3 separate regions of the Homo sapiens genome follow, and all the other regions are reported to be linked to region 1. The links are microRNA targets in miRTarBase. Many come from high-throughput screens and were not tested one by one. Region 1 holds a microRNA gene; each other region holds the end of a gene's coding sequence.

What was found. Region 1 holds the annotated microRNA hsa-miR-4529-3p (AUUGGACUGCUGAUGGCCCGU, at 1,450-1,470, shown strand). A microRNA usually pairs through its seed, bases 2 to 8, with sites in the 3' UTR of a target mRNA and lowers its output. Matches are read on the target gene's strand: a 7mer-m8 pairs with bases 2 to 8, a 7mer-A1 pairs with bases 2 to 7 and ends in A, and an 8mer does both.
Region 2: miRTarBase lists CACNA2D3 as a target of hsa-miR-4529-3p. Seed matches in the 3' UTR shown: 7mer-m8 at 3,205-3,211.
Region 3: miRTarBase lists SPANXN1 as a target of hsa-miR-4529-3p. Seed matches in the 3' UTR shown: 7mer-m8 at 323-329.

What each region holds. Positions count from the first base shown.
Region 1 is chr18:55,477,821-55,480,820 of GRCh38, forward strand. MIR4529 (microRNA 4529) reads left to right here and starts at 1,401; the gene lies at 1,401-1,478. The region is part of intron 3 of TCF4 (transcription factor 4); the gene reads right to left. The region is part of intron 1 of TCF4-AS1 (TCF4 antisense RNA 1); the gene reads left to right.
Region 2 is chr3:55,073,765-55,077,521 of GRCh38, reverse strand. It overlaps CACNA2D3 (calcium voltage-gated channel auxiliary subunit alpha2delta 3), which reads right to left. Exons shown (of 38, transcript NM_018398.3): 37 at 3,663-3,745; 38 at 2,965-3,408. The coding sequence ends at 3,316. Among named protein-coding and RNA genes, the nearest start is that of LINC02017, 100 kb to the left of the region's middle.
Region 3 is chrX:145,255,510-145,259,266 of GRCh38, forward strand. SPANXN1 (SPANX family member N1) reads left to right here. Exons shown (of 2, transcript NM_001009614.3): 2 at 162-699. The coding sequence ends at 305. Among named protein-coding and RNA genes, the nearest start is that of SPANXN1, 9.9 kb to the left of the region's middle.

The sequences.
Region 1 (3,000 bases):
CTTAGGTTTAATCACATCAAATTCCTGGGAATAGGCATTTTTGGTTCTAGTAGGTCTGCAACTTGGATGCATCCTGCCTTTTGCCCATCTGATAACTAGTGGAATACCGGTCAGAAAGAGATGAGCTGCTCTGAGGTACTGGTCTTACCAATTCAGTAAGTGGAATGGTAAAAAGCTGTAACTCTTCCTCAGGAATGGAAGATATGTCATTAGTGTGAAAGGAGATAGAGGCAAAGACCTGAAGAATGACGATAACCAGACATCTTGAGAGAAAACAAGAAGCAGGGAAGGGGTTCCGGGAAAGCCGGAGCTGTCAGTAGAGAATAATGATTTATCTGATGAGATTAGCAGACAGTTTGATTAGAAAAGATGCCTTTTTAACACAGCAAAGATTGCAATGTTACTTTAAGATTTGTTGTAGGAAAAAGCCGTGCCTGCCAAATGTGGTCTGTAACAGCACAGGCTAGCCATGAGTGATACAGTGGGAAAATAGCCACTAAGCCAGATTTTATTTGATTTGTACTGATGATTTTTATTAGAATACATGGATCATTGCTTCAACCTTTCCATGTAAAACCAAATCAAATTCAAAAACTCACACATCAGTCACCTAACCTTATGTCATTCCTTCTGCTTTACTCAAGTTGAGCCACATTTCAGCTGATCTGTCCCCGATAAATTGTTCAGCTACTCAAAACTGTTGGGCCAAATTCTGGGAGGCAAGTGGTACACAAAAGAAACCGCGAAATCTGCAGTTACAAGTAAGAAACCTACAGAAAAGAAATACTGCAAGCTTCCGAAATGCAGAATGAATTCAAAACAATATACAGCCATGCAAAACAAGACAAAATGAATTATCCTTATTGTACCAAATGAGTTGTAATTTGTTTGTAAAAGGCCCCCACTTCCCCCAGCTTTTTTTACTTAAGCCCTTTTCAATTCAAGACACTGTAAAGAATTTTGCAACCAGAGAAAGTCCACAGTTCTGTGGCATAAGGAGATTTAAACTGCAACAAACAGTTTTAAAATTAAAAATGTTCAAACTTTAAGGTGAAAATTATAAATGTTAAATATTATATTGGTGGGAAATCTCTGTATTATTTAGAAGAATTGTTTCATTAAAAGGAATGAAGTTTAATTACATGAAATATGGCAATGGGTTTCCAAAGAAAAAGTGCCAATAATCTACTTCCCACCATTTCTTTACCTTTTTTGTTTTTGCATTAACATTTTCCCTTTCTTCCTCAAACATTGCAAGTTTCATTTTAAACCTGTAACCAATACTTATGTCCATTTCTAGTTAACAAATCAGTTCCATCTTCTGATTTCCTTTAGTGTCCCAAACCACTCTGAAATGCAAGTTATTATTTTCTCCTCAGAGAAGGTAAATAACTTCCCCAATGACAGGCCATCAGCAGTCCAATGAAGACATGAAGACCCAATGTCTTCATTGGACTGCTGATGGCCCGTCACTGGGAAAGTTATTTATATGTGGCTCATGCTCAACCTCTGGAAGACACTGGATTTTATCAAATACCCAATACCTCTGAAAACTAGTGGTCACCAAACTTGCAGGCCTCTGGTGTAACCCTCTGTGGCTAAAGCCAGGCTATGTTTTCACCAATCCCCATCTCTTTCTGCCCGTGACCACCTAGGAATCTGAAATTCCCCATCTTCCTTTGCAGTCATGGGATCATATGACTAGGATTTGGCCAATAAAATGTGAGCAGAAGTAATACTTGCCTTGTCCAGACCTGGCCCTTAAAATTTCCCATGTAATCGTCTATGCACCACTCTCCTTTTCCTCTTTGATCAGCCTGATGCCAATATCTAGTGAACTCCAAGGTCCTAGGGGATAGCAGACCTGAGCCATGGAAGAAGCCAGGCTAGGACCAGAGCCCACCCACGTTGCTCTGTGACACCGGAGGGTAATAACCCTCTGCAGTGTTAAGCTACTGAAGTTTGGGGATTGTTTGTTCCAGCAATTAGCATACCCTGACTAATGCATCTTCCAAAACAGACTTCCGTGAATTCTGGCACTATGATTCTATCTTCCAAGTAAAGCAAACATACGCAGTTAGAGCTGGCACCAGTCAGAATTCTGAAGCAGGGGAAACTGGTCTTTGAACTATCCTTCTTTCCCTTTCAGACTTGTTTTCCCCTCTTAGCATTTCCTCCCTCTGAGCACCAAATGTTCTCAGGCTGCTCAGTCTCGTCTGTCTCAAGAAAATAGACACAAGATATTCATTATCCATTCTTTCTCTTAACCATTACCTTTTGAATACCATGAGCTGCCTGCTACCTGGGAAATTCTGAAGAACATCTTTAACATCTCACATTGAATGTATCCTCATCTGTAAAATGGGAATGACCGTATTTACCCTCCAGTACTGTTGTGATGATTACAGATAACAAGGAAAATGTTACCATGGAACCTGGAACACAGTAGGAACTCCAAAAAAAAAAAAAAAAAAAAGCGGGGGGGCGGGGGGAGGATATTATGTGTATTACACTTACTGTTATGGTCATAGCATGATATTTGACACCAAAAGGATACAAAATGTACATAAAATAGGACGCTTTCTCTCTGAAATATATAATCTAGATTGGGAAGAAAATCTTACGAAAATAAAATACAGTATTTGGTTACTAAAACAAACATAGCAGAATTTTTGAGAAAGGTGAGTTATATGGGCTAGAATCAACACTTGCAAGGTACTGGTGATTTAGGACAGAGTGATACTAAATTTCAAAGGGGCCTAACAGAAAGGTTCATGATTAACCTAAGGGAATAAACTGCTACACCTCAACATTTTTCATGTCACCTTGTGTAAGGCGTGGCCCTGTTCCCGGTCTCTTTATTGATTCAGTTATTAATTCTGTGTCAACCCTAATACAGATGTCACTAAAATCAAACAAACCCTAGTATCACAGTGGTGGGGGACAAGGATTGATTTTACTTTGTACAAAATCTGGCATAGGCCAGGCGTGGTGGCTTAT
Region 2 (3,757 bases), not on the chromosome of region 1:
AGAGTCAGATCACAGTAAACAGTAGGTGCTAGCTTTGTCACTGTTATTGGTGGTTTTAGTTGTATTATAGGCCAGGCACTGTTCTGGGAGCTGGAGATGAAGTCACGAACGATAGAGGAGTCCTTGACCTATGGAGCTGGAATACAGTAGGTGAAACTGAAAATAAAATGATTCCAGATACTGATGTAAAGGAAAAGTAAAACCAGAGGAGTGGGGCTAGGGGAGAAGAGCAGCTGTACCAGGGGTCTCTGAGGAAGGAATTTTTGAAGGGAGCGTGGATGTTGGGAAGGAGCAGCCACATGAAGACCAGGGTCCAGAGCCCTCCAGGCAGAAGGCACATGAAAAACAAAAGCCCTGAGTGGGCACCATGCCTGGCATTTTCAAAGGCTTGGAGGCAGAGCCATGGAGCACAGCGGGTCTGGGGCAGAGCAGCACAGGATGGTGTGGGAAAGGGAGGCAGAGTCTAGCCGAGTCCCTGTAGGTCCCACAGCTCAGCGGATGCCAACCTGGCTTCATATTAACATCACCTGGGGAGTTTTAACAAAAACTAAAATGCCTGGGTTCTGCCCCAGAGTTTTCGTTTGTTTGAGATGGAGTCTCGCTCTGTCGCCCAGGCTGGAGTGCAGTGGCGCGATCTTGGCTCACTGCAACCTCCTCCTCCCGGGTTCAAGCGATTCTCCTGCCTCAGCCTTCCGAGTAGCTGGGATTACAGGCACCTGCCACCATGCCCGGCTAATTTTTGTATTTTTAGTAGAGACAGGGTTTCATCACGTTGGCCAGGCTAGTCTCCAACTCCTGATCTCAGGTGATCCGCCCACCTTAGCCTCCCAAAGTGCTGGGATTACAGGCATAAGCCACCATGGCCGGCCTGCCCCAGAGATTTTTTGAAAGGTCCCTGAGTGATTCGAACACACAGAAGACTCAGAGAACCCCTGCTGTGGACTACAGTAAGGGATGTGTATGTTGTTTTAATTGTACTGGGCAAGGCTAGGATCAGATATTTGTTTCCGAAAAACTGCTCTGGTTGTTGTGTGGAGAACGGACTGTGGAGTGGGACTGGGTGGTCGCTGACAGTGGAAGAGAGGAGACTAATGAGGACATAGGTCTTCAGAGACCAGGGACGGGGGTGGTGACTGGGAAGAGGATGGCAGCAGTGAGGGGCTGGGAAAAGTGATGGTCAGGTTTGGTGTTTGAAGGGCACAGCTCGTGAGACTTGCTGCAAGGTGGGTTGCGGGGGAAAGAGCAAATTGGGTGGCCCCAAGGTTTGGGGTTGGAGTTGCGTCAGTGGGAAGAAAAAAGTTTAATGGAGGGGGATCGTGAGTTGTGCTTAGGACACATTAAGTTGGAGAAAATTATTCAATTTCAAAGTAGACAAACAAACAGGGTCCAGTTGCTTGAAGCTGTTGTGAGAACAGCGAATCAGAGGTGCCTGGTGGGTCAGTTACATGAATGTAATCGTGACAAGGGCATGAGGTGCAGTGTGACTCAAGGATGCTATATTTATGCCATAAACAGTTTAACAAAAATGACTCCATCGTTTAGAATGAGACTGGGAGTGGAATTATACGTAATTATATTACATGTATTTTGCATCATTTGCATTAAATTATGGGCATTATAACATAATATGCTTGACTTATTGTTGCCAGTTTTTAAGAACTGTAATGGAGAATCATAGGTTATGTGATGTTATTTTTGTTAAAAATTAATTAAAATATGATTTCTCTCTTATAAATCATCTAACTTGCTCTCTTTTAAAATCACCTAAATAATTTTCCTATAAATCACCTAGATCTGTGATAAATTCATCTCTCTCAGTATTAAGCTCAATTTTCCTCTGGTCATCACCTTAGGTATAAATAGAATGTCTTTATACTTGTAAATAGAATGTCTTTATACTTGTAACTTTATGGGTTTAGAGTCTTATCATCAATCATTCCAGCTTAATAAATTGTGGCTCCTTATCTGATATCAATGTGTCAGTGTAAATGTAATATATCTATCTTTATATTTGTATGAGCAACAAATGAATTTATTCATTTACCAAGTGCACAGAGTGAGTAACATCAATTGTCACAATTCTATAGCTCCATGGCTGTTGAAAGTTTGGCAAGTTTGCCTGTTACAGTATTGTGATGTTGAGAACAAACAAACAGCACTGGAGGCATAGTAATTTAATTTTAAAAGTTATAACAACAAACAACAAACAATGTAGTGGAATCATTTTAGTATAAAGCAGTACAGTGACATCAGTTTTTCTAAAATATCAAGAGGATAATGTGCCCCTTTTTAAAAGAGTTTAAGTAAGTAAGTAGGATTCTCTGGATAACTTTTAGATGTCGTCTGTCCTATAAAGTAAGGCATTCTCTACTCTGCCTAGGCATGGAAATTATTTCACTTTATTTAGTAACCATGATCCAGTGAAATCTGTTTTCTTTGGGTCAAGAGCCAGCGTTTAGAAATGCTTGCTTACATGTCTGGGTAGTTTCATCTCATCATACTTGAGATCTAATTTCATATCTTGTTTATGGGGAAAGCCAGAAGCCAAATTTGTAATCATTGTTCTTTTCCTCCTTCAAGTCTCCTCAGACCGAATTCCTAGGATTTATGACTTCTTTATTTCTATTCCCAAATAATTCACCACTTGAATATGATGAAAGCTTGTGTTTGCATCCAAATTATGATTTTCATTGAAGTTTAGTTCAACAAAATTCACGGTTCTATGTAATAAACTCTTCCCATGTAGATGATATTTTGATATACTTCTATAAATATTTTTATAACTGAGAGTGAGTGAAGCATCTAAAAACAGTTGTTAAATATGTGCCTAGAATCTGCTTTAGAACAAAGGCTCTGCCAACAGCCATCATTTCCTGGTTTCTGGAATGGGGACCTTTTCCCCCATGCATTGTTTTCAGTTGGTGTTCTTAGCAATAAAGTGATGATAAAATCCAAACACGGAGATTATGATTTTAATATACTTTATTTAAAAAGTACACAGTTTTAAATTGGTTTCAATAGGTTTCAAGCAGAAGGGACACTGCCTACCACTTGCGGTCCCATTTCTGATGAAGGGTGATTATCATGTGGCAAACTCACATTTGCATGACTGGCAAAGTAAAAAGATGATAGATAACTTTTTGTCAACATATCTTTAAGAGTTTATATCACGCACAGTTTAAAATCATGATGAGATGCTGATGGTTGGACTATATTCATGTCTCGTATGTTGCACCATATTTTGGTTCACAGTTTATCCATGATTTAGCATGCCAAGAGAACATCTCAGTCAGTAAGAGAACATCTCAGTCAGTGTCACCTTGAGAAGAGCATCAAAAGCAGAGGGAGCAGAAGGAGGACTGTCTGGGCTTGGAGACTCGGCGCACCCCCACACTCCCTTGCATTCTCCTATGGGGAAAGGCAGGGGTTGGTTAGACGGAAATAGACTCCAGGACACCTTCAACTTTCCCCAGACCTCTCTCCCCCTCTCTAACGTAAGAACGAAGTCTTCTGGGACCTAGATGATGGTGCAGATTCAGTTTACTGAATGAAAGGGATTATTTTCTCATGAGTGAACTTTTCAGCTGTAGTTCTTTGACCAGTGTGAGACTCTCGTGGTGATTCTGATGGGAAAAGGAAACAGGAACAGTTCTCAGACTTACCTCAGGATGGAAGCCATGACAAGATTCTGGGCGCCTTCTGATCTTCTGGGCCTTTAGACGTTCACACTTAAGGGATTCATTATGTTGACTGTAGT
Region 3 (3,757 bases), not on the chromosome of region 1:
CTTCCCCATAGATCCCTACCCTATGATTCAACCTTGTTCTTCTCTGGCACACACCCCTTCCTCCACCTGCATTCCTTCTCATAAAGCCCCCCTTGCTATCCAGTCTCTATCCTATTCACCCAAAATAATGTCTTTCTGGCCTCTCCCTGTTTTCTTAACAGATGCAGGAGACACCAAACAGGGACTTAGCCCCCGAACCGAGTTTGAAAAAGATGAAAACGTCAGAATATTCAACAGTATTAGCGTTTTGCTACAGGAAAGCTAAGAAAATACATTCAAATCAACTGGAGAATGACCAGTCCTGAGAGAACTCCATCAATCCAGTCCAAGAGGAGGAGGACGAAGGCCTAGACTCAGCTGAAGGATCTTCAAAGCAGGATGAAGACCTAGACTTACCTGAAGGCCTAGACTCAGCTGAAGGATCTTCAAAGCAGGATGAAGACCTAGACTTACCTGAAGGATCTTCAAAGCAGAATGAAGACCTAGGCTTACCTGAAGGATCTTCAAAGCAGGATGAAGACCTAGACTTACCTGAAGGATCTTCACAGGAGGATAAAGACGTAGAATTACCTGAAGGATCTTCACAGGAGGATGAAGACCTAGAGAAAAAGCGATCATCTAGGTCAAGAAATGAAATCGAAATTTCAGAAATTACAGAAATTCTCCAAGGAAGGAGCCAGATAAATAAATATTCTGATTTCATTTTCCTCCTTCTCCAGTGATCTGCAGGGACCTACCATTCACTAAAACTAACCCGAAGCCATAGAACAAGACAGCTTATTAATACAGTCCATGGTTTATATGAGTAGATTTTTAGCAGCACAAAGTAGAGTGGAGAATGGATCTGGTGAAGCAAATGGACGATATATTGAGAACACTGAACTCAGAGAAGCAAAAGCCTCAGGAGAGATCATACTGTCTTTCTTCAACTCTCTGATATGGTGTCATGTGGAATCAGGCCAGACTTACACTTTTTGAGTGCCATACCTATGATTAGTAGGACCACAGTAGGGAACTTAGGGGAAAGTGGCATAAACTCCCTTAGGCAGTTGATGTGGATGAGTTTGTCCTGGAAAAGCTGTTTACAAAATGATCAACTGTAATTTTGCTCTTTTGGAGCTTGGAAAACAGTACCCCAAAATGAAGACCTCAGGAGCAAAAGTCTTTCTCTAATCTTCTCCTACCCTCCTGTCTCTCAGTCTCATTCTCCCCCAAGGCTAGCTATAGAAACTAGAATCCTTCTTCCCCAAGGTGTGTCATAGAAACTAAACCATATTTTCCCCAAAGCCAGCAATAAAACCTAAAAATATGGCCAGGCGCGTTGGCTCACGCCTGTAATCCCAGAACTTTGGGAGGCCGAGGTGGGTGGATCACGAGGTCAGGAGATTGAGACCATCCTGGCTAACGTGGTGAAACCCCGTCTCTACTAAAAATACAAAAAAAAAAAAAAAATTAGCCGGGCGTGGTGGCACGCACCTGTAGTCCCAGCTACTCAGGAGACTGAGGTAGGAGAATGGCGTGAACCCAGGAGGCGGAGCTTGCAGTGAGCCCAGATCACACCAGTGCACTCCAGCCTGGGTGACAGAGCAAGACTCCATCTTAAAAAAAAAAAAAAAAAAAAAAAAAAGCTAAAAATATTACTCTCATTTTCACTCCGCTTTTCCGTGTAAAAACTAGCCATAAAGAAACTGACTGTAGGTCAGAAGGCCCCCATTTCAGAGGGGTCCCTGCCCCACACCCAGAAGGAAGAATGCTGCTCAAAGAAGCCAAGAATAATCTAGACATACAGGCCTTTCTGTGTTTCCCCACTCAGTTCATTAGTATTAGTTTATACCCTTTTTGTCCAATCCTATTTCTGAGCCTCTATCCATACTTCCTTAAACCTAGGCATAAAATGCACAATTTCCCCTGTATCTTTGGGTCTTCATTCTGAAGGCTCCCAAATACACCCCTTAAACAAATCTCTATACCTCTTCTGCTATCAATCTGGCTTTTGTTGGTGATATCTAGTGAGCTCTCAGAGGGCCTTGCCCGCTACAGCTCTTTCCTGTGGGTGTGAATATCTCACCATGCCTGTTACTCTCTACATCAAAATGTCTAACACTTGCTACCATATTTCCCTGGTGTAAAGGAGAAGGTTGTTGGGTTTTTTAAGCTTGATGTCATTTGAAAAATAAGAGTTATGTTATATAAAAACTTGAACAGTGGCAAGGATGTGTGGTAGCTTGACTGCTAATTTCCTGAAAGTTCAGATTTGAACTTGTTTGCTGTGGTATCATCTGGAAATAGCATGGAGCCTGACACACAACAGGCAATTAGTAAATACTTGCTGAATGATGGCACAAGCATGGACAGTGAAGTGTAGCATGGTGATGAGAAAAAAACACTGATAGTGACTCATATTATATAAGGTTCTAGCCCCAGCTGTGGTTATAACTAAAAATATAATCTTGAGCTAGTTAAAGAAACACCCTTTAAATGTGATGTCCAAGTACCTAATTCCATTAATTTAGATGTAATTGCTAAATGTTTGGGTCTATGTAGCACATTAATCTAAGTGCAAAAACATCCAAAATATCCAAGATAATGGAATAAGTCTCTCTAGTTGAAAGTTTAATACAATGCTGAGGCTGATATCTACTCAAAAAAGTTGAGGATGTTATTTACTCAAAAAAATTTCTAGGCATAGATAGTAGATATAATGATCTTAATTATATTATTATTTTCATTTTACACAACCTTAATTTTTTTCTCGAGTTTTATTTTAGCTACGGGGGTACAAGTGCTGGTTTGTTACATGAATATATTGCACTCAGATAGTGATTCTAGTACCCAATAGGTAGTTTTTTCACCCGTGCCCTCCTCCCTCCCTCCCCCATCTAGTAGTTTCCAGTGTCTATTGTTTCTACATTTATGTCCATTTGTGCTATTTAATCCCTGCTTGTAAATGAGAACATCTGGTATTTGGTTTTCTGTTACTACATTAATTCACTTAGGATTATGGCCTCCAACTCCATCCATGTTGTTGCAAAGGACATAATTCCATTGTTTTTTATGGCTGCATATAATTCCGTGGTGTATATGTACCGCATTTTATTTATGCAATCTACCTATTTATGGGCACCCAGGTTGATCCCATGCATTTGCTATTGTGAATAGTGTGGTGGTGAGCACACGAGTGCATGTGTCTTTTGATATAATGATCTATTTTCCTTTGAGTATATACCCAGTAATGGGATTACTGGGTCAAATGGTAGCTCTATTTTAAGTTCTTTGAGAAACAGCCTAATTTTTAAAAGACCTCAAAAGATAAATTTACTTTAGTAAACTTTAAATCAATGTACATTTTGGCCAGGCGCAGTGGCTAACGCCTGTAATTCCAGCACTTTGGGAGGCTGGGGTGGGCAGATTACTTGAGGTCAGGAGTTTGAGACCAGCCTGGGCAACATGGCGAAACCCCATCTCTACCTAAAATACAAAAATAATAGCCGGGCATGGTAGTGTGTGCCTGTGGTCTCCACTACTCAGGATGATGAGGCAGGAGAATTGAGTCGAAAGGGAGGAGGTTGCAGTGAGCCAAGAGTGAGCCACTGCACTCCAGCCTGGGTAACAGAGTGAGACCTTGTCTCAAAAAATAAATAAATAAATAAACAAATAAAATAATGCACATTTAAATGAAGAATATATCTTTGCCTTGAAATGCTTCACTAAATGTGAATAACACTACTAATAATACTAATGATATCTAACATTTTCA